Homo sapiens: one gene and its partners. The protein of the gene in region 3 interacts with the protein of the main gene of each other region in a pairwise test. Each region holds a gene or a part of one and is shown on either strand. Other genes may lie near its edges.

Region 1 (7,910 bases), on a different chromosome or scaffold from region 3:
GAACTGTCTGCCTGCTGACCCGCTACTTGTAAGGAATGAAAGCAAGTGAGGACGGTTTCAGGAGTGGAGAGGAGGACTGGGAAAAACCTCTCCACAGTGAGAGCCTTTTGTGTCACAGGAGTTCGGTATATCAGGTTCATCAGCTCATCCTTGAAAACCTCTGACATTCGTTCTTCACTACACAGAAAAGCATATTGTTTACTGGACTCTAGAAGCAAGCAACTTGCTTGTGGGTTACCAGCAAACATTTTTTATTATGCAGTCACCGTACCACATCCCAAGGACTAAATGAAACGCAGCACACATCACCAGAACATTTCAGATGACCTGGAATAATCCCAGTCCTTGATCTCTAGTGCTTATTATTGGAACACTGAATTAAACAAACTCCATGGAAAGATACTCTTCACATACGTTCACCTAGACACATGCAGTCTAAGCAAATACATACTCGTTCCATAAAGAACGATCCAAAATAAAAGTGATTCTTTCCTTTCTGGTAAAGAACATTAAATCTATTTTAATTACATAGAAGTACACAGTAATGAAAAGAGGCACCCTGAAAGAACTGAGTTGTAAGCAATAAGGAAAAAAATGATATGCAAATTACAGACAATTTTCATGTTGCATTTAAGAACGCGTTTTGCTTGGGATTGGTTCTGTATGTGAGTAAGGCAAGGGACTGTTGTACTCTTTTTCCGACTGGAGCACAATGAAACAAACCACTCAGTAGCAGTCTGCAGCCAGCACACCACCATAAGCCCATCAAAACGGTGGGGATGCAGTATAGAAGAGGATCAAGAAACGTCACAGAAAGCATTGTTTTTTGTTGTTTTTGCCCTAAAGTTACTGATCTGTAGTTGGCAGATTTTCCTGATGTCGGGTTTATTGCCACTGAGCCAAATACAATTTATTTATTGAATATCCTACTATTTAGTTACCTCTATGTTATGAAGCGTCAAATAAATTAGATTATCTATACCGCAGGATTTTCCTGAACTCTGTGTAGAATCTAATTTATACCGCAAAAGAAACTGGTTTTGAAGTATTAATATCAAAGTACCCTAAGTTCTTTAGTGTGGCACGCCCCATGCCCACAGACATACATACTGCTACCTCCAGTTATGTACAAACACAAAAGCCTAAAAGTTCCATTAGGCATTTTTGTGAGGCAAAAACAAAGAAGCCCAAACCACCTTTTGATTTCACATTAGCCTATCCTCAAACCCATGAATATCTTTTCTGATAAGAAACACCAAAATGTGATTCTAATTATAAAAAACCTAGTAAGCACGTATGATGAACTACTGCGTTTCCCCTACACAGACTCTAATTGAAAGGCAGTGTTAAACCAGGAAGGGTTTTTCTAACTCCCCACAGACGAAGAAAACAGGTTATTTGTTCATTGTTGCTGTAGTGTCCATTCAGTGAACACACATTAAATAGGCCAAACCAAAAACAAACTTCAGCAGCTTCAGCCTCTCACAAGAGCGGAAGGCTTTCTACCTGGGTACTGGTGGAACAGCGAAATGAATAAAGTGTACAATAAATGCAGCGATGGGAAAAATAACACGGGTAGATGGATAAATCATCCTGCCTCCCAATGGTGGCAAACTTTACAACAACTTTTTAGAAGCAACAAACCGCAGCACCACAGTCTTTACAGATATATAGACATGCATACACACAACTACTGGGTAGCCCAGCAGTGTGTTTACAAACATCTACCGCCCTGCATTTACAGAGTGCTGCTTAGATAGCCTCTCTGCACTGTCAAACACAGAAGGTCATTTTGCCTGGTTGCTTAGTTCTTCCTCTCCCTCCATCACAGGAGTTTTCTACTTTGGGATTGCTCAACTTTCATATGGATCGGAGTAAAATAACTATTCAGCAACTTTATTCACCTTGGTTTTAAAAAAAAATTCATTGTGCAATGCCTAGGAAAAGCTGACACCAGGACTGTCTCTCCGACAGCGCTTGCAATTACAATCAGACGAGGGGGAAAAAAATCCTGTCTGATCAGACCCAGAGAGTCCTTTAAAAAAATAAAAAGATTCTATCGCAGTGGAAACTGAACAACTTTTTTTCTAAGACGACCACCCCTCGGGAACAAAAGTTATATTTCAGTCACATGTTGGGTGTAGGAATAGGGAGCAGGTTTTTTTTTTTTGTTTTTTGTTTTTTTTTTTTTTAAGCGCACTAATTACGGGGGTGTTTTACGGTTCTGGAGACAATCCGGGTTGCTCTGACCAATTGTGACCGGCATTTCATTGTCAAAAAGCAAGGGGGTGGGGGCCGAGGAGCCGGCAGGGGCTCGGCGGTGGGGGGGAGTAGCAAGGTTACGCTAAAGGGTACAGCAGCCACCGCGAGCTGCATCTCTTTCCCTCTCGCCCCAAATAATTTCCTGCGAACAGAGCAACTGCAACAGCCTGCTCTGAGGAGCCCAGCACGACTGCCCTGGCCGGTGCAGCTCAGGGTTTCCACCACGTAGAAGGAGGGGAGAAGATTTTTACCTTAATGCTACACTGAGCAGGAGTCTCAGACATGTCTCACAGCGAGAGAGATCAGGAAGTTCTCAGGTTTTTTCCACTTTCCTTTCCTCTCCCCAACCCAGAAAGGCTCCACGGCCAGCCAGACGCGGTCATTTAAGAAGTTTCTTCCAGCATCTCTCCCGGCAGCCGCCCCGGGGGTCTGGAGCGCGCGGGGCGGGGCGGGGCGGCCGGCGGAGTTGGGCGCGCGGGGCGGCGGGGGCGTGGGAGACGGGCCCGAGCGCGGCGGCGGGGTCTGCAGGTCGCGGCGCGGCGCGGGGACCCGGGACGCAGCCCGGCCGGCCTCCCGGTCTCTCCTCCCACCCGCAGCCGGCGCCCCCGCCCCCCGCCCTCCCGCGGCTCTCCCTCGCTCTCTCGAATGTTTTCCTTCCTGGAAGAGAGAAACTGAAAGGCAGAACTGAGAAAGCTCTTTGCTCATTGATCTTGAGAGTTTCAGTGCAGAAACTGACGTGAATTCCCAGCACTGAGCTCTGCCTCTTAAAGGAGCCACCAGGAAATAAAAGCTCGGGTTACAGCCCGGCATCGGGGAAATAAAAGCTGCGCGGGGGAGGGGCGGCCGCGGGGGCGCGGGCGGAGGAAACCCGGGTAGCGGGGCCGCGTGGGGCCGCGGCTGCGAGCGGGGCGAGCGGCGCAGCCCCCCAGGCCGGCCCCCGGTGCGGGCGCCCGCCCTCCACGCCGCGAGACCTCCCGCTGGCCGAGCCAATTTCCGGGCTTAAGGAAGACACCTTTAAAAAACGTTACATTGTGGCCCCAGACACCACAAAACAGGTTTTATTAAACTCCTCCCACCTCCCCTGGCTCCGTCTCTTGGATACATCGATGTGCACAAGGGTTTTGAAACGTTTCACTAAGCGCAGATGCAACGAAAGTAATTATCTATGAAGGGCCATTCCGGTTAGGACGCGGAATCCGAAGGAGGAAATAAAACAATAGCCTTTGTTCTGCTTCTCGACCGCTGCCTCTTTAAGAGAATCCACCAGGAAATGGGAGATCGGGTTACAGCCTGCACACGGGGAAATGTGGGGAGAGCGGGCGCCCGAGCGCGACGCCGGAGACAAAGCCGGGGCGGCCGCGCCGCAGACGCTGGGGGACCGTCGGGCGGGGGGATTCCCGGGGAAGGTGGGCGCCCCGGAAAGAGGTGGCGCCACGCGCCCGCTCGGGGATGCGGCGGCCGCGGGCGCTTCCCGAGCCGAGCACGCGCTCCGGGAAGGGAAGGCTGCAGGGCAGTTATCAAAGGCAGCTGAGTTCCTTTTCCTGACCTCCCCCTCCTGTTTCGAAATCCACTGCCCTTTTAAAGAAATAGCGGCCGCTACCAACCGAAATAGGTGACTCGACTACAAAGTTGGCAGGACGTGTTCCTGCAGATAATACCCCTCCCCAGGACCGCTTCTCTGAAACCGTCATTGGCCGGTTGATTGGATGGCCCTGGGATCCTGCAGGGGGAGGAATATTTGGTTGGAAAAGCAGTTGAGGGGGGTTAAGGCCGTTGGGGCTGAAGGGTCTAGCCCTGAGCACAAGTGATCTGATCACTCTATTATTTTTATTATTATTTACACTCTCTTAAAGTGTCCACCACAAAAAACTGAGAACATTATCATTATACTTAAATTCTAACCTTGTTAGCACATATTGGGGGTTTAATATGTGGATGTGTAATGTAAAAGGAAATTTGTTATAATTTCTTAATAGAGTAATATATTAAATATGGTATAAATATGTATATACGCATATATACCCATATATGTTACCTGCACTGGACCAGGACACATTTCCCCGAGTCTCCCCACCCTACAGATTTTTCCTACCCACTTTCCTTCACCTCTTCACATTATCAAATGTGTTGAGACTTGTACACACAATATTTTTGTTCACACATTGATCAGATCATTACGAACGAGGCTAGGGTGGGAAAGAGTGCTGTTGCTGGGATGATGGGAACTGGTGGTTGTGAGCCTCCAGGAACCTGAACAGGTTTTGTCAACTGGTAGTCCTGCCCTCTCTCCAAGAGATCTCTGTCTTGTCCACACCGACTCCTCTGCCTTTGACCACCCCCTTCTCCCCTTTAACAATTTTCTGTATTCTTTTGCTTTTTTTTTTTTTTTTTTAAGACGGAGTCTGCTATGTCGCCCAGGCTGGAGTGCAGTGGTACGATATCGGCTCACTGGAAGCTCCGCCTCCCGGGTTCACGTCATTCTCCTGCTTCAGCCTCCCGAGTAGCTGGGACTACAGGTGCCCGCCACCGCGCCCGGCTAATCTTTTTTGTATTTTTAGTAGAGACGGGGTTTCACCGTGGTCTCAATCTCCTGACCTCGTGATCCACCCACTTCGGCCTCCCAAATTGCTGGGATTACAGGCGTGAGCCACCGCGCCCGGCCTCTTTTGCTTTTCTTAATTGATGTTGCAGACATTGGTTTAGATGTCCCATTGCTAGGTTATGTCTTCCACATCACTTAGCAATGTGATCCCTGACAACACAGTCACTAAGCTTCTGTAAAATGGGGAGAAATAGTACCTAGCTCATAAGATTATCTTATTAAATAAGAAAATATATACAAATGCCTCCTTAGCAGAGAGCTGCACAATATATGTGCTCAATTCAAGTTGGCTACAATTATTATTTAACCCCAGGACTAAATTAGTTCTCGACTTTTCTTCCTAACTCCTCCTCAACGTCTACAAGTGATTCATAGAAGTAGTAGTTTGAAGTAGAATGTTTGTGGTTCCAAAGCAAAAAACATAGTTGACAACTGTAGCAAAAACTACATTTAGACCAGGGGTTGCCAATCTCTGTAAAGGGCCCAGCTGTAAATGCCTTAGTCTTTGTGGGCCAAGAGACAAAATTGAGAATGTCAGGTAGATACTTATATAACACGAAGAAAAAAAAGTCCACAGTTTTTTATTTTGTCAATTCAAAGTGTAATAATAGCAATTTTAATACAGGTATAATAATGAAAGGCATGGAATTCTTTTGGGGGGAAAGTAACATTTCACTTGGTGTTCAAAGTGTTCTTTCATAAAAATTGACTGCAGATGTTCATCTATTAATGCTGATTTTTTATGAGATTTTATGTACTTCATTTTTGAAATGTCTTTCTACCCAGACAGATACCGCCAAATACTGATACCAACCCATGAGCACATGATTTTACTTGAGTGTATTCATTGCTTAGAAGGCATTTCTAAAATTCTATTAGAATTCTATAAATTCTCTTGATATTTCCCCTTTAGCATGCCATTACATTGCAGATTAATCACTTCCAGTTGAAGGTTAAATGGAAGCTTCTCAGTTGCACAGTTAAGTAAATTTTAAATATGAAAATTTCCTTTGCACTTGCATTGAAATTCAGAAAACACTGTTGGTACTGTAGTTTGAGTTCAGAAAAACATAACTGCTGCAAATTTGTGTTGGAATGGAGATCTTGCTTCTTGTTTTAACTTTTGACAGCATGAGAAGTGTGTAAAACAGCTTGACATTATTTGTGATTCAAACAATGTTAGTTGTGTCAAAATGATTTTACTGCAGTTTAAGTTTTGCATATAAGCTCTATTTTGCCTTGTAGTTTTAGGTTAAATTCATAAAGAAACATTATTGAGTCTGTAGTAAAAGCTTATTTGCAGAGCCATTCAGTGTTCAATAACAGTGGTTGAGGGAAGTTTTTCTCATTCATTCATTTCCATTTGTCGCTTGTTTCTCTGTTCCTTGTTTTCTGAGAACTTATGGGTAAATTGGATTTTTTTCTTTCATATTCCATTTAAATTACTAGATTGTCTTTTTAGATTTTCTTCTTTATGTTAAATATGGTGGTTGCTTTAGAAATTACAATTTGCGTATGTTATTATCACAGGCTACCTTTAAATAATATTATTCTATTTTATGAATCTGTAAAAAAGTTACAATGTAATTCCATTTATCCCTCTCCCATCCTCTGTATTGTTGTGTTATATTTTACTTCTATATGTTATAAAATTCATTTTACATTGTATTTTTATGGTATTTAGAAATTTGTAAATATATGCATATAATGAATGTATTAAAGTATGTCTCTTTTTAATTTGCCCAGATATTTATCCTTTCTAGTACTTTTTTATTCCTTTTTGCAGATCTGGTTTTCCATCTGGTATCTTCCCTTTGGCCTCAAGAACTTCACTCAGCATAGCCTGTGTGCTGTTTGTTGGAGAAGTCTCTCAGCTTTTGTCTGCCTCTAAATGTCTTTAGTTCATGTTCACTTTTGAAGGGTATTTTTACTGTACGTAAAATTTTATGTTGACATTTTCTTTTCTTTCAGCACTTTAAACATGTCATTCCTCTTCTGACTTCATATTTTGCTAAAAAATCACTTGTAGTACATATTTTGGTGCCCCTGTGTACAGTGTACACTTTTTTCTGTAGCTGCTTTTAAGATCTGCTCTTTAAATTAGGTTTTCAGAATTTTGACTATGATGTACACAGGAGTGGTTTTCTTTGCATTTATCATTTATTCACCTTGATGTCAGCTGCAGTTATTGGATCTGTGGGTTGGTATCTTTCATTAGTTTTAGAAAATTGTCATTTATTATCTGTTTGAATATTTTTACACCCATTCTGTTTCCTTTTTTTATTCTTAATACAAGTATTAGACCATATATTATTGTTCCATGTATCTCAAATACTCTGTTTTATTTCCTTGTATTTCCTTTTTTTTTTTTTTGAGATCAGCTCAGGCTGGTCTCGAACTCCTGTTCTCAAGCAATCCTCCTGTCTTAGCTTTCAAAGTGAGATTACAGTGCTAGCCACCACACCTGCCTTGTTTCAATTTGAACGCTTTCTACTTATTTCTTTCTAAGTTTTCTTCCTCTGATTTTTTCCAATTTACCGTTAAGCCTATGTAATTCATTATTTACTTTCTTGCTCTGTCTCCCAGGCTGGAGTGCAATGGCAGTCTCAGCTCACTGCAAGCTCCACCTCCTGGGTTCACGCCATTCTCCTGCCTCAGCCTCCGGAGTAGCTGGGACTGCCACCATGCCCAACTAATTTTTTAATATTTTTTAGTAGAGACGGGGTTTCACCCTGTTAGCCAGGACCATCTTGATCTCCTGACCTCGTGATCCACCCGCCTTGGCCTCCCAAAGTGCTGGGATTACAGGAGTGTTCCACTGTGCCCGGCCTGATGGTTTCCTTTTTTGACTACAGATCATATTTTCTTTTTTTGTTTTTTGAAATGGAGTCTTGCTCTGTCGCCCAGGCTGGAGTGCAGTGTCGCGATCTCGGCTCACTGCAAGCTCCACCTCCCGGGTTCACACCATTTTCCTGCCTCAGCCTCCCTAGTAGCTGGGACTATAGGTGCCTACAACCACGCCCAGCTAATTTTTTTTTTTTTTTTT
Region 2 (7,000 bases), on a different chromosome or scaffold from region 3:
CAGACAGATGGAGAGGCTAGAGACTGGGAGGTGGGGGTGTGGAAGCTGGGCCACCAGTTCCTGAGGGGGCAGGGGAGATGAGTGAAGGAGCGCCAAGGTCACCAGAAGAATGGAGCAGGCTTCCCCAGGGGCTCCCTGTGGCTTGGGCACCCCTGCCTCCTGGCCCAGCGTGCTTTCTTCCGCAGCCCGTGCTGCCAAGGCAGAAAGCTAAGGTGAGCAGACGAGATCTTCCCCGAGAGAACCCTGGCTGGGTGGGTAGCGTTCTCTGGAAGGGTAGCCTGGATTGGGGGACTCTTGTTGAAGAAAGGTGGCAGGTGTCCATGGCCCCTGGCAGGTGGGGCTGGCACTGCCCATGCTGTTCCTCAGCTGGGGCTCAGTGCTGGGCTGCCCTCGGGACTGTCGCTCACCAGGCACTCGTTGGATTTGAAGCTCGCCAGGGACTTGCAGCTGGGAATGGAGGCCAGGGAGCCGCAGAGGCCCAGCATGGAGGGCGTGGGGTCCTTCCCTGGGGAGAGAGGGCAGGTGAGGCCAAGCGACCAGTCTACATGTGTGGGAGTTGGTAGAGGGGTGGGCAGTGAAGGGGCAGCCCTCAAGTCACCCCCCAGGAGACCTTGGCATATTCCACAGCATTTGCCATTTTCAGTTAAACTTTGGTTAAGCACCTGCCTGTGCCAGGCACCGTGCTGGGGACACTGTATTGTAATCGTCAGTTGATGTCTCTGTCTCCCCGTGAGGGTCATCCTCTCTCTTTGTCCATTTATTAAATACACAGTGAGCACTCGCTCTGTTCCAAGCACTGGGGATACAGAGAACGGACAAGACACGGTCCCTGCCCTCATGGAGCTCACAGTCTGGTGGGGGAGACAGACACACAGACAATCACAAACACAGTGTGATGGGGCTACATGGCCACAGCCTGCCTTGTCTCAAAGAAGATCTAGGGTCATCCAATACAGTGTGGTTGCTTATAAAAAAGAAAAGACAGGATATTCAGGCATAGGGAGAACTAGGATGGGAAAAACCAAGGTGAAGCCAGGGATGAGGTCAACACAAAGTGCATGCGTTGAAGTCCTGGGCATTCGCTCGAAGGGAGCCACTAATTTGGCTCTGAGCTTCCTGGCAGCCAAAGAGAAGGGGGAAACAATGGTCAGGCAAGTAGTTCACAGTGTGCATGAGATAAGAGCAAATTAGTCTAAGGAGTTCCCCGAGAGTTTGTGAGCCCCCGAGGATGTCATGACACTAAAAAACCACTGAGCCCTCACCATGTGACAACATTGGTGATTATCAACATCCCCATTTACAAAGAATAGACTCATGGAGGTAAAGTGATTGACCAAGCTCACATGGTCAGAGGAGGCACAGCCAGATTTATGCTGGGTTCTGCATATGCTGTGTTCTGCCACCTCAAAGTAAGCTCTCGATTGCTGTGCTAAACCCTCAAGAAAGGCTGAGAGAGGCCGGGCACAGTGGCTCACACCTGTAATCCCAGCACTTTGGGAGGCCAAGGTGGGTGAATCACTTGAGGTCAGGAGTTCGAGACCAGCCTGGCGAAACTCCGTCTCTACTAAAAATACACAAATTAGCCGCGCGTCTCTACTAAAAATACACAAATTAGCTGCGCGTGGTGGCAGGCGCTTTTAATCCCAGCTACTCGGGAGGCTGAGGCAAGGGAATCCCTTGAACCCGGGAGGCAGAGGTTGCAATGAGCTGAGATTGCGCCACTGCACTCCAACTTGGATGACAGAGTGAGACTCCGTCTCAAAAAAAAAAAAAAAAAAAAGACTAAGAGAATGAATGAGGACATGCCTTGAGGCCTCAGGGCCTTGCCTCAGCCCTTTCTGGAGGGGTACTGGGTGTTGGGTTGGGGGAGCTCACCGATGGGACCCCAGGGCTCCTCGTCCCGCGTGCCCTCTCCCAGGCGCTGGGAGTCCGAGCTCAGACTGGCTTCAGCTGACAGCGGCTCCGTGCTCATGAAGCTGTGTCTGCGGCAGAGCGAGAGCTGGTGCGCCGGTAGAGGAAGCCCTTCTTCCCCAGGACGACCCGCTCTCAGGCCCAAGCCCCACCTGGCTGGGGCTTACCTCCGGTAGAGCTTGGAGTTGCTGGCGCCCTCGGCCCCATTAAGCGTTCCCAGTGAGGGCCATTGATTGACCAGGGGTGTAGTGAGCTCCTTGGAACCCTGGGCCAGAGGGGCGTGGTCACTGGGGATCAGACCTGTCCTGGGAGGGGGAGGAGGAGTCAGGCCTGGCTGGAAGTAGGAGAAGTGAGGAAGGGAGATTCAGCAAGGGGATGAGGGAGGGGTCAGGAATGAAATCTGAGCGGCAAAAATGGGGATACGGTGTTGGGGTCAGTGGGCCAGATCCCGGGAGGAAGTGGAGGTGGTACTGGGGTGGAGGGGTGACAGGGATTCGTGCACAAATATTGGGAGTTGGAGGGAATGGTGCAGTGTTGTTGGGGTCAGCTGGGGTGATGGGGACGTCAGTGGAGGATAGTGTGGGAATCCCTGAAGTGTAAGATCGTCTTGGGGATCTTGCCGCAAGATCAGGGTGGTGGAAAGGCGTAGAGAAGAAGTGTTACAGGGATCGGCAGGGGTGAGGTCGGGGGTCACGGCGGATGATGACGGTCAGTGAGCCTGTGGTGCAGGTGAGTGAGGCGATGAATGCAATCGTGTTGAAGGTTGCAGAGCAACACCGCAGGTCCTTGTGAGTGACGTGGGGTCCCTGCAGTAAGGTTGGATGGCCACTCTAGCGGAAGATAACTGAAGGTGAAGGGTGGGCTCTGGCTGTTGGAAGTCACTGGATCTTATGCTGGGGGCAATGTTAGAAGATCATTGTGGGCATCTCGGGGTGGGGCTGGCTGGATCAGAGGGTTGATGCTGGAGAGGTGGGTGCTCGTGTCGGGTGATGTTAGAGTCGATGGAAGTGAAGATGGGGTTCACCCGGTGATGTGGTCGGGGCGGCGGGGGTCAGGGGTTAGGGCAGGCCGTGCGCTCACAGCTGCTCCTGCAGCTCCAGGATCACGCCTTCCAGCTCCCGTTTCTCGCGCTGGTTCTGCGCCGCCGCCTCCTCCAGCTGCAGCTGAAGCCGCCGGTTCTCCGCCTCCAGGTCCTTCAGCTGCGACTCGCGCAGACGCACCAGCTCCTCCAGGTAGCCCTGCGGGGCGCCGGCTCAGCCCGGGCGGCTGGGAGGACGTCCCGGCCGCGGCCCCCATCCCCGCCCCGCCCCGGGATGCCCGGATCCCCCGCCCGGCCCGCCCGCCCCCCGGGCCCGCCGGCGTCGCGCACCTTCTGCGCGTAGACGATGCGGAACTTCTGCTCCATCTTGTGCCACTTGCTGTACCAGCTGTCCTCATCGGTGACGAGCGGGAGGTACGGGTGCTCGGGCGAGTTGTCCTCGCTCGTGCTGCTCTCGGCGCTGTGCCGCTCCTCCTCGTCCGTCAGGTAGTCGTAGCTTGGGAGAGGGAGCAGTGGGCACGGCCGGTCCCGCCCCTCCCCCCGCGCGTCTGCGCTGGCCGCTGAGGGCGGTGGGACCAGGACGTCCCCAGGATGTCCCGAGGCCCCGTCCCCCGCCCCGCCGCAGTCATGGAGCCGCTCACCTCTGCGTGAACTTTAGGTAGGGCGTGTAATCGATGACCACGGGGGTCTTCCCGTCCAGGACTTCCCCCTTTAGACAGAAGCTGAGGCAGAGGAGCCACAGGGTTGGAGGTGGGTGTGAGGGGTTGGGGTAGGACATTTATGGGGGAAACAGCCCCCTCCACCACTGCCGTCAGGCAGACCCCACCTGAAGTCGATGGCGCTCAGTCCGATCAGCATTCCGGTGAGGATGGTGGCTTCATCCCGCAGCATGATGGCTCCAGAGTCATAGAACCGTCTGTGGGGAGGCAGAGGGCCAGAGGATGCAGCAGGCCCCTGGAGCGCCCCCCCCCCCCCCAGAGCTGCTATTGTTGGCTTACTGCCACCCCATCCTGAAGGAAGGCCAATTCTCCTTCCTGATCTGCACGCAGGCCTGGAGCCTCTCTCCCCCTTCAGCCTGGGGCTCGCACCTGTGGCCCCATCACCTAGAATGGGTGTTCCCTGAGCCGACTCCTCCCTCTGAGCTACCCCTTCCTCATCAAGTACTGGGTTACCCAGATCCTTCATATCAGGAAGCAAGTCTTAATCATTAGTGCTTGGTATACAGTAGGTGCGCAAAAAACGTGTTAACTTGAAACGTGTAGACTGAGGAATGGAATTCAGTAAAAACATCAGGCTGGGTATGGCCAATTGGGATGGGGAGGTATATGCCCCCCGCCACACCCAGACAGCTTCAGATGCACCTGCCCACACAGGCACACTCCTCCTTGTAACCCCTTGCCTCAGGCACCCAACCTCCCTGTGAACCCACAGTGCAGGGATTGAACTCCCCATATAAGGACTCTGTGTCCGTGAATAGCAAGTACAGAACTGCTTTCGTTGTTTGGAGAGACAGAAGGGCTGTGTTGTAGATCATGGAGCAAGCCAACACTTGAGATGGTGCATGGCTGAGGCTCATCCAGAGGTGTGCAAGGGTGGAGCGTGCTGGGCATTGATGGCAAATAATGGGCATTAGATTTGACTTGCAAGTGGTGGTGGTGGTGGTGGTAAAAGTTTGTCCTGGGGCCAGGAGCGGTGGCTCATGCCTGTAATCCCAGCACTTTGGGAGGCCAAGGCGGGAGGATCACCTGAGGTTGGGAGTTTGAGACCAGCCTGACCAACATGGAGAAACTAAAAATACAAAATTAGCTGGGCATGGTGGCGTATGCCTGTAATCCCAGCTACTCAGGAGGCTGAGGCAGGAGAATCGCTTGAACCCAGGAGGCGGAGGTTGCAGTGAGCCGAGATCGCGCCATCGCACTCCAGCCTGGGCAACAAGAGCGAAACTCCTTCTCAAAAAAAAAAAAAAAAAAAAGAGTTCGTCCTGGGACTGCAGGCCAGGCTGGAAGAGGGAAATCAGCCATGTGTGCTGGTGCTGGGACTTGTAGTCCAGGAACTGAAGGATGCTGCAGGAACTTAAGGATCAGCTGTGTTTGGGCAATGCAGGTGCACTCTGAGACCTGTGGTCTGAGTTGCCTGGGAAGTCTGACCTGGTGGTCCGGGTGTCACGCAGAGCCGTGGTGATGTATTCTGACATGCGCTTCTCCATCAGTGCCACCCGGATCCATGCCCGGCCCTGGAAATCATGTTCACCTTTACTTGCTGCCCCAGAGGGACTCATGTGTCCAGCATCAGGTGTGGGCCCTTCTCCCCTGGGCTGTGCACAGGGGGCAAAAACCAAGAAACAGGCAGGCCCCCTGTGTCCAGAGCAGAGAGCAGTTGCTTGCTTCAGGCCCCTCACCTTGGCCCGGGCTGTGCTGATGTTCTCCATGTTCTCGATGCTGCTCACACAGTTGTTGGGCACTTTGCTGCAGGCCAGCCGGATATAGTCCCAAAAGCCCCGCTGCCCGTCTGAGCTGAACCAGCTCACTGGACCTGCTGGGGCACAGGCTGAGCCAGGGCAGGGAGGGGGCTCAGCAAGACCAGGGAGTTTGGAGAGGGTCCATGTAGTGAGGCACTCACATGCATAAGCATAAGCAGCCTCCTCCCACAAAGATCTGTGCACACACATGCACGTGTGCAGTGGGCACCCCAGCATATCGCTTGCCCATGATGGGGATTGTAGGCCAAAGGCCTCTCCCTCTTCCCAGATCTGTACACAAGCTTCTGTGCATGGCCCAGAATGGGGGCCAGGGTCAATGAGGGGGTTCAGAGTCCATGGAGTATATCAGAAAGAGGTGGCTGGGAGCTAAAGGTTGGGAGTTGGGGAGGGACCGCTGGGGGAGGGGCGCTGGGGGAGGGACCACTGGGGGAGGGGCGCTGGGGGAGGGACCGCTGGGGGAGGGGCGCTGGGCCCACCTTTGAAGCGGTGGCTGAGGATCTGCTCTAAAATGGCTGCAAAATTGACAAACTCCTCCGATGAGTCATCGATGGGCTCCGCTGTGTACTTCTCCAGCAGCGTTTTCACAGAGAACCTGGGCGGCGAGGTGGGGAGATGGGGCAGTGGGGTGTCAGGTGAGGAAACAGGTGATGGAGGGAGAGACAGGGAGCAACCGGCAGAGAAGAAAGGTCAGGAAGGGCATGGATGTGGTGGGGGGCAGAGCGAGTGGGGAGACAGGCAAGACTACAGTGACCATAGAGGTACCGTGTCATGTGGAGTGAGAGGGTGGCAGATGGGGAGGAAGGGTGACAGGTGGGAGACTGATTGACAAAGTGGGTGACAGGAGAGGTGACAGCCAGAGAAAGGAAGCTTCGGGAGCAAGGGGTGAGAGGGACTGAAAAAATAGGAAGATGAGGCACAAGCCGGGGGCGGTCCAGGAGCCCCTTCCCCATAGACCACCCTTCAGGGTCTGTGTGTGCGAGGCCTGGGTCAACTAGGTGTTAGAAGCCAGTGTGTGCCCCACCTGAGCTGTCTTCTGTGATTGCTGGAGCAACCTTCAGTCCCTTTTGGGGATGGGGGTCACCTGTACCAGGGCATGTGAGTTGGCACTGTGCACATGGAGTGTGGGCATGCGCAGGTGGCCAGGTGGGCTCCCAGTACACAGATACCCCCTTCCCCCCTTTCCTTCCCGGCTTGGCCTCCCACACACCAGCTGCCCAGAACCAGGCAGTGCAGAGCTGGGCGGGGGTGGGGTGGGGAGGTGCGGGGTATGGGCCTGACACAGACACTGGGCAGGAGGGGGCATTGGCAGCAGATCCCTGGAAGGGGCTTGGGGGCCTGGCTTCTTTGGGAGGAAGGGACTAAGGGAAGCCTGTGGGGCTGAAGGACTGAAGCCATGCAGTGCCCCCTCTCCAGTCCTGTCTAAGCCTCAGGCTCCCTCTGCAGTCACTACCCCTGCAATCTCCCCCTGCCATCCCTGCAATGGAGTAGGGCAGGGATGAGGACACAGTTCCTAACATCCCATGATTTCCCTGCTGTGGGTGGCAGAGCAGGGGCGGGGTGTCCAGGGAAAT
Region 3 (7,079 bases):
CCTCCCCAGGGCTGTGGAGCGGCTCAGGCCTACGCGTGCCTCCCCATGCTGTCACTCTTCCCAGGTGGGCTTTGACTCATGTCCATGGGCCAGTGACTCTCAATTTTGTTCACAGCATTTCTCTGGAGATCTAGTGGCCTCTGAGACACCAGAGAGGTCCCGCCGCCACCATAAATTCAGCATTCTTCTAAATGCACTCCCTGTACCTGCTCTCTTTCCATTTCAGTGATGCCATCACCCATTCAGCCATCTGCACAAGAGACCTGGACGTTATCCTCGCCTCCTTTGTCTCCTCACCCCTGTTTTCACTCCACAAATGTTTACTGAGCACCTACTATGGTCCAGGCCCCTTTCTGGGTGCTGGAAAACAGCTGTGAATGAGACAGGAGTAGTTGCTGTTCTCAGGGGATGTCAGACAGTAAAGGAGGATAGAAATAAATGTTTAATGCACCAGGTGATAGGGATAAAGCAGGGGTCAGGGTTCAGAGGGATGGGACATGATCTCAGCCAGAGCAAGCAGGGAGGATTTCTTTTTTTTTTTTTTTTTTTTTTTTTTTTGAGATGGAGTTACGTTCTGTCAGCCAAGCTGGAGTGCAATGGCACAATCTCGGCTCACTGCAACCTCTGCCTCCCAGGTTCAAGTGATTCTCCTGCCTCAGCCTCCCAAGTAGCTGGGACTACAGGCATGCACCACCACGCCTGGCTAATTTTGTATTTTTAGTAGAGACAGGGTTTCACCATATTGGTCAGGCTGGTCTCAAACTCCTGACTTCAGATGATCCGCCTGCCTCAGCCTCCCAAAGTGCTGGGATTACAGGCGTGAGCCACCGCGCCCAGCTGGGAGGACTTCCTAGAGGAGGTGTTATTTGAGCTGAGGCTTGAGAAATGAGAAGAGCCAGGTCAGGGCAAAGGCCCGAGGTGGGAACAGATGTGGATCACTCAGAGACCAGCTAAGGGGCCAGGCTGGAGCAGAGTGAACCAGGGCAGCGCAGGCAGAGAGGCGTCAGAGGGGCTGTGAGGAGCCAGACCACGCTGGTCCTTGGGAGCCATGGGGACGGGCTTGGGCTTTGTTCTCAGTGCCGGGGAGGCTGGGGTAAGTGGCAGTTCAGCAGTGGGGGAGAGACCCCGTCTGGCTTCTGTGTAGGAAGAGCCCTGTCACCCTTTGTGAGGAAGGACCTGGGGGGTCAAGAGTGACAGCAGGGGGAGGGGCTGTTCCCTCAACACGTCATCACCTGCCTCCCTCCAATCAGTTCCACAGGCCACGAAGCAGACACTAGGAAAGGAAGGTGCCACCCCGCACCACCCCCAGTCTCGCCTTGAGAGAATAAAGGCAGCGTGTGATGAAATGCCAAGTTCTGAGGCAGGTGGTTCCCAGGATGGTCAGCGCCGCAATGGCCTTCTCAGCATGTTGCTGAGTCCTGCAGCTGGCTGTCCTGCAGGCCCCAAGAGCTGCAGCTGCTCCAGGCAGCATCTCCAACCGCAGCCATGCCCAGGCTAGCAAAACTTCCGACCTCCTTTTTATTCTTTAATGAGGTATAATTTACATTAATAACCTGCACTTATCTAAAGTGTACAATTTGATGAGCTCAGTCATGTGGGAAGCCATAACCACACATTCCATCGCCCCCGAAAGCTTCTTCACACCCCTTTGCTGTCTAGCCCCATCCCTAGGCACCCACCGATGTGTTTTTCATCACCATTTTCTAGGATTTTATACACGTGCAGTCATGCAGGATGAGCTCTCGTTTGTCTGGTTTCTCTCAGCCAGCACAGTGATTCTGATGCGCCTGTGTATCGGGAGTCCGATCCCTTCCGTTGCTGAGGCATGCTTCTCATGGTGTGCACGGATACAGTTTGTTTCTAGTTCACCTGCTGAAGGACATTGGCATTGTTTCTAGTCTGGGTCTGTTTCAATTAAAGCTGCTGTTAAGATTCTCGTGCTAGTGTTTGTGCAGACATGTGGTTTCATTTCTCTTGGGTAAATACCAGAGAGAGGAATGACTGGATCGTATGGTAACTCTGGGTTTCACTTTTTGAGAAACTGCCAGACTACACCAAAGTAGTTGTCCCATTTTCCATTCCTATCAGCAGTGGACAGGGGTTCTGGATGCTGTATATCCTGACCCACAGGCTATGAAAGAGAGAGACCAGGAAGAGGGCTTCTCCCTTCAGGCCACCTGTGGACTTCAGTAAATACGAACCTTCAGCGGGAGTGGGCGCCCTGACACAGGCGGGAGAGCAAGGTGCGTTGGCCCGGCAAAGGCTCTGAGAAGGTCTGCATTGAGAGCTTGTGAGGCATTGCTTAACCTGATGTCTCTGGGTGATTCAGTCCTGGACCTTTGCTGCAGAGTTCGCCTCTACCCTCACCCTGCGAAGAACTGCAGTGGCCCCTGTGGGCATTCACACTGGGAGATGCTCTTCTCCAGGAATTCCCTGGGGGATGGAGATCAGAACGGCCTCAAGTCCTGCTCTTTTGCGGATAGTGGCCATGACCGGAGTCCCCAGAGCGAAGCAGGGTGGTGCATCTCACCCCCTGCCCCAAGCCCCCAGATTGTAGAACTGAAAATGCAAGCATCTTTTCTCTTCCTTCCCCACCCCAGGTGCTCATCTGCCGGAACTACCGTGGCGACGTGGACATGTCAGAGGTGGAGCACTTCATGCCCATCCTGATGGAGAAGGAGGAGGAGGGGATGCTGTCGCCCATCCTGGCCCACGGGGGGGTCCGTTTCATGTGGATCAAACACAACAACCTGTATCGTATCCCTTTGCTGGGGGTGCTCCCAGGGGACTCCTGTGTGGGTGTTGGTGTGTGTGCATATCCACACGCCTGCAAGCAGGGCTGGTTTGTGCACAGCGCAAGCATTGGACACAGCCATGCCCTCCTGGAGCTCCCTGCTGCCTGCGGAGACAGGCAGACAATGCACGATGACATGTGTGATGGGTGTGGGGAGAGGAGCAGGTGTGACTTGAACCTCTTCAGCCCAGGGGCCCAGGAAGGGAAATGACACCCTGGAGGAAGCCTGCAGGGAGGCCTGGCTTCTGCCAGCTGGAGGGGTGGGCAGGCACTAGGCGTGGGTGAAGGCTCTGCAGGGAAGAGCCTCATTCCAACAGCTGCACTCGGGGTGGCTGGAGAGGGGGCGTGTAGGGCAGCGAGGCTGGAGTGGTCAGCGGGGTCTGGGGTCTCAAAGAACATCATCTGAAATGTGACAGGAAGTCTCTGGAGGCTTTTAGATGTGTGTCTTCTGGAGGTTTCTGGCTGCTGAGTGGGGCAAGACTGTGGGGACAGGAGAGGACATGGGTAGGTGGGGAGTAGGCTGGGGCCATCGTGCAGGTGGGAGGGGAAGTGGCCTGGACCACGGAGGGGTGGTGGGGTACAGCCCCGCCCAGATCTCAGAGCCCCCCACCCTTCCTGTCCTTGGGCCCATGGGGAGACTTGGCCAAGCCAGTTTCTATCCAGGAGGTCTAACTGGCCACCCCACAGCTTTGGGCAGACCCGCAAGCCCATCTCAGTACCCACACTACTGCGGAAGGGCCTGCTTTGCCACTCACAGCCCGTTTGAGCCCCAGCTCCAGCAGCCATGGGGGATCCCTCACCTTCCCACAGTTCAGTGGGAACAACGACCCCTCACTGCAGGACCATTCGGGTCAGTTGAACTGACTTGTGCATATTGCTCCCAGCAGGCATGGGCTCTGTGCCCTTTCCTGTGTTCTTGGAGACACTTGGGGCCTTGCCAGTACAGTGTGGCCAACGGGCCAGAATATCCGCTGGGAGCCCTTTGGAAATGCAGAATCCCAGGCTCCACCCAGCCCTGCCCCGTCAGAATCTGCATTGTAGGAAGATTTGTTCCTGGTGGCCGGTGTGCACATTCCCATGTGGGCCGTGCTGGCCCAGGGCTCCCTGTGGTGTGCCTCTGTGTAGATTTCACCTGGCTCTGGAAGGCCCTGAGAATAGCTCTGAAGATGATCTTAGGTGGCTTTTTTTTTTTTTTTGAGACAGAGTCTCGCTCTGTCGCCCAGGCTGGAGTGCAGTGGCGCCATCTGGGCTCACTGCAAGCTCCGCCTCCCGGGTTCGCGCTATTCTCCTGCCTCAGCCTCCCGAGTAGCTGGGACTACAGGCGCCCGCCACCACGCCCAGCTAATTTTTTTGTATTTTTTTAGTAGAGACAGGGTTTCACCATGTTAGCCAGGATGGTCTCGATCTCCTGACCTCGTGATCCGCCCGCCTCAGCCTCCCAAAATGCTGGGATTACAGTCGTGAGCCACCGTGCCCGGCCTAGGTGGCTTTTAACCCAGGGAACTGACAGTCCTCTGAAGCCGCCCAGGTATTGGGAGAGGGAGAGGTGGCTGTGGTCTGAGCTCAGCAGGAGCCATCAGATCAGTTTCTGGTTGGGCCCCCACATTTCACACCTGGGCATCTAGGGAAGAGACAGGGAGGGCTCACCCCTCTGGCTTAGTGGACATCGTTTCACCCCCAGCCGGGACAGTGCTCAGCAAGGCCGTGGCTGAGAGGCACCCATGAGAAGGTGAGAGGCCCCCACTGCCCCTGCTTATAAAGCATCTGGGGAGGGCACATTGCCAGGCAGCAGGAGGGAGGCCAGCACTCGTTTGACTGGGCCAGCGTCCCTTTCCTGGGCCCCTGTGCTGTGCTGGGGTGAGGCGGGAAGGGAGAGGATACAGCCCCCACCCTCCCTCCTAGAGCTCACTCCTGGGCAGACGAGCCAGGCAGCACAGATGTGCCATGAACAGGGATGTCCAGGGTGCAGTGCATGGGCCTACAGAGGAAGAACCAGCCTTCTCTGGCGGCCCGGGGACCCATTAGGGAAAAAGGAATAGGAAGCGCCCAGCACACACTGACCCTGGGAGGCAGGGGCTGGCTCCTGTGGCAGAAGGGAACATCTGTGCCAGACATCTCACCTACATTGCCTTGGTGAGTTCATTCACAGGCCTCCATTACACAGGAGAGAAATATCAAGGTTTCTCTAGAAAGGTTTATTTCATGGGCCAAGGCTTGTGTTTCCAAAGCCAGGAAGGGCTGAAGCCAGAATTGGCCCTGGCTGCTTGCCACAGAGTCTGGCCGGGGGACCCTGGACCTCAGCAGGGTCATGATGAGGTCAGCTTTGGAGGAGCAGGGCCAGTGTGTCCTGCTTTCTGCTCCTGGAATGAGCCTCACTCCCTCCCTGCTCAAGGCAGCCCTTCACCCAGCCGCCGGGACAGGTGCCCTGTGCCACCTGCCATCCCTGTGATTCTCCATCTCAGTGAGTGCTCCCTGGGGCCTGGGAGCGCATCTGGCTGGTGACTCCTGTGTCCCAGGTCTAGCTTGGACCAGGAGCTTTGTAGCCCACCATGGGCCAAGTAAACGGCTGGGAGTGGGGATAGGGAAGGCTCTGAGGGTTGTGAGGGTTAGGGGGTCCCTCCATGAACCAGGATCTTCCAGGCAGCAGCCCCAGCCTCTGAATGCTCCTTAACTGTGGCCGCCATGCAGTGGTTGCCACATCCAAGAAGAACGCGTGCGTGTCGCTGGTCTTTTCTTTCCTCTATAAGGTGGTGCAGGTGAGTCTCGCTCGGAGGGGCCGTGGGCTTGGGTGGAGGTTGTCTTGGCTCTGCTTGTGGACCTCCCCATACCTGGCCACCCTACAGAGAGCTGTGGCATCCCCAGGGAGCACTGGGGCTGGAAGCCCAGGAAGTGGGAAAGGGGAGTCCCAACTCCCCACGCCTGTGGAATTCTATAGCTCACGTTGCTCCCCTACCGTGGGGAAGAAAGGAAAGTGAACAGGAAAAGGTAGGGCTCAGAGCAGGGGTGCCCTGACCCTGGAAGGGACAAGCAGGGGTCAGCGAGCTTTGGAAGGATGTGGGGTGACCAGCTGGATGGGGCTGGAATAACCAGCAGAGCTGCAGAGCTGAGCCCACCTCAGAATCTCCCAGGGGGCTCTCAAGGCACAGATGCCTGACGCCCACCTTGGAGAGAGCTGACACGCCAGGCCCAGGCTGCCAGTGAGACACAGATAGCAGCCAGGGTGAAGGCGCCAGGACAGGTGTATGTGTGGTGCAGCTAGGGAGGCCAGCGTGCGTGTGGCAGAGTATGAGGCTGAGGTCAGCTGGGAAGAGGGCGGATTATACAGGAGTGTGGATTTCATTCCACTTCTGATGAAAGGTAGTGGAGGGCTTTAAGCAGGAGACTGACAAGACGTGGTTTGATCTAAAGCAGCCTCTCTGGCTGCTGAGCAGAAGGAGGACTTGAGGCCAGTGAGGAGGCTGCTGCTGGCTTCCCGGAGAGGATGGGCCTGGCCGAGGTGGGCTGTGGGGCTCACGAAAGTGGGGAACAGGACCCAGGAGGCCTGTGCTGGGCCTGGGAAAGCTTTCATCCCTCACTGATGCTGCCTGTGCAGAATGTTGGGGAACAGGGGCAAGCCTGGGCGGTGAGGGCTTGGGGAAGGAGCCGAGGGTCACCTGGGAAGGCCCCACGTGCAGGCCAAGGGCTGCCTTCACTGGACCGGTGATGCTGTCACAGGCAGGGCTGGGCCTGGCTGTGCTGCCTGTGGTTTCCAAGCAGAGGCCGGGTGATCACAGTCCTGAAGCGCGCAGGGGTCAGCAGATCAGAGAATGGGGGATGCGGGAAGGGGAAGGTCCTCACCCAAGGGTTGGGCTGTGCCTTTCTGTTTTAGTGACGCTCCTTCCTTCAGCATTTGTGCCTGCAAAAGTGCTTCTAACAGCCCCTCTTCTTTGGCGTCCCTTCCTTAACCTTCTGAGCTTTCCATTGAAATGGGGAAGATGCATCAAGCTTTCCACTGAAATGGGGAAGATGGCAGCTCATCAGGTCCTTGCCTGAGTCACTCCAGACTCAGAAAGGGATGACAGTTACAGTCGCTCAGGAGGGGCTGCCTGTCTGCGGGTGTCTGGGCAGGGAAGAGAATGGGAACGCAGAGCTTCTGAAGGCCTCGGGACATCTGCAGTGGCTCCAGCCTGGCCCCACCCCACAGCCAGCCACTGCTGTCCTGCCCCATAACCTGGGTCCAGGGCCCTGTAGCACACCACCGAGCCTGGGAAGTAGGCTGTTGGTAGGACTTAGCGGGCAAATGAAT

Evidence for each region. The genes of interacting proteins can lie anywhere in the genome.
Region 1: the proteins of AP1M1 (region 3) and ETV6 interact in binary tests that used the Homo sapiens proteins (3 or more experiments, as listed by UniProt).
Region 2: the proteins of AP1M1 (region 3) and RUNDC3A interact in binary tests that used the Homo sapiens proteins (3 or more experiments, as listed by UniProt).

The regions. Positions count from the first base shown.
Region 1 is NC_000012.12:11,644,764-11,652,673, reverse strand, and holds the start of ETV6 (transcription factor ETV6), read right to left. Parts: upstream 3,001-7,910; 5' UTR 2,547-3,000; coding exon 2,514-2,546; intron 1-2,513. UniProt on the Homo sapiens protein: Transcriptional repressor; binds to the DNA sequence 5'-CCGGAAGT-3'. Plays a role in hematopoiesis and malignant transformation.
Region 2 is NC_000017.11:44,311,601-44,318,600, reverse strand, and holds part of RUNDC3A (RUN domain-containing protein 3A), read right to left. Parts: intron 6,022-7,000; coding exon 5,906-6,021; intron 5,498-5,905; coding exon 5,349-5,497; intron 5,184-5,348; coding exon 5,098-5,183; intron 3,867-5,097; coding exon 3,777-3,866; intron 3,673-3,776; coding exon 3,592-3,672; intron 3,447-3,591; coding exon 3,281-3,446; intron 3,150-3,280; coding exon 2,992-3,149; intron 2,217-2,991; coding exon 2,079-2,216; intron 1,983-2,078; coding exon 1,876-1,982; intron 1,565-1,875; coding exon of another isoform or gene 1,478-1,564; intron 1,117-1,477; coding exon of another isoform or gene 1,097-1,116; exon of another isoform or gene 740-1,096; intron 506-739; coding exon 363-505; 3' UTR 1-362. UniProt on the Homo sapiens protein: May act as an effector of RAP2A in neuronal cells.
Region 3 is NC_000019.10:16,200,859-16,207,937, forward strand, and holds part of AP1M1 (AP-1 complex subunit mu-1), read left to right. Parts: intron 1-2,600; coding exon 2,601-2,757; intron 2,758-5,482; coding exon 5,483-5,550; intron 5,551-7,079. UniProt on the Homo sapiens protein: Subunit of clathrin-associated adaptor protein complex 1 that plays a role in protein sorting in the trans-Golgi network (TGN) and endosomes.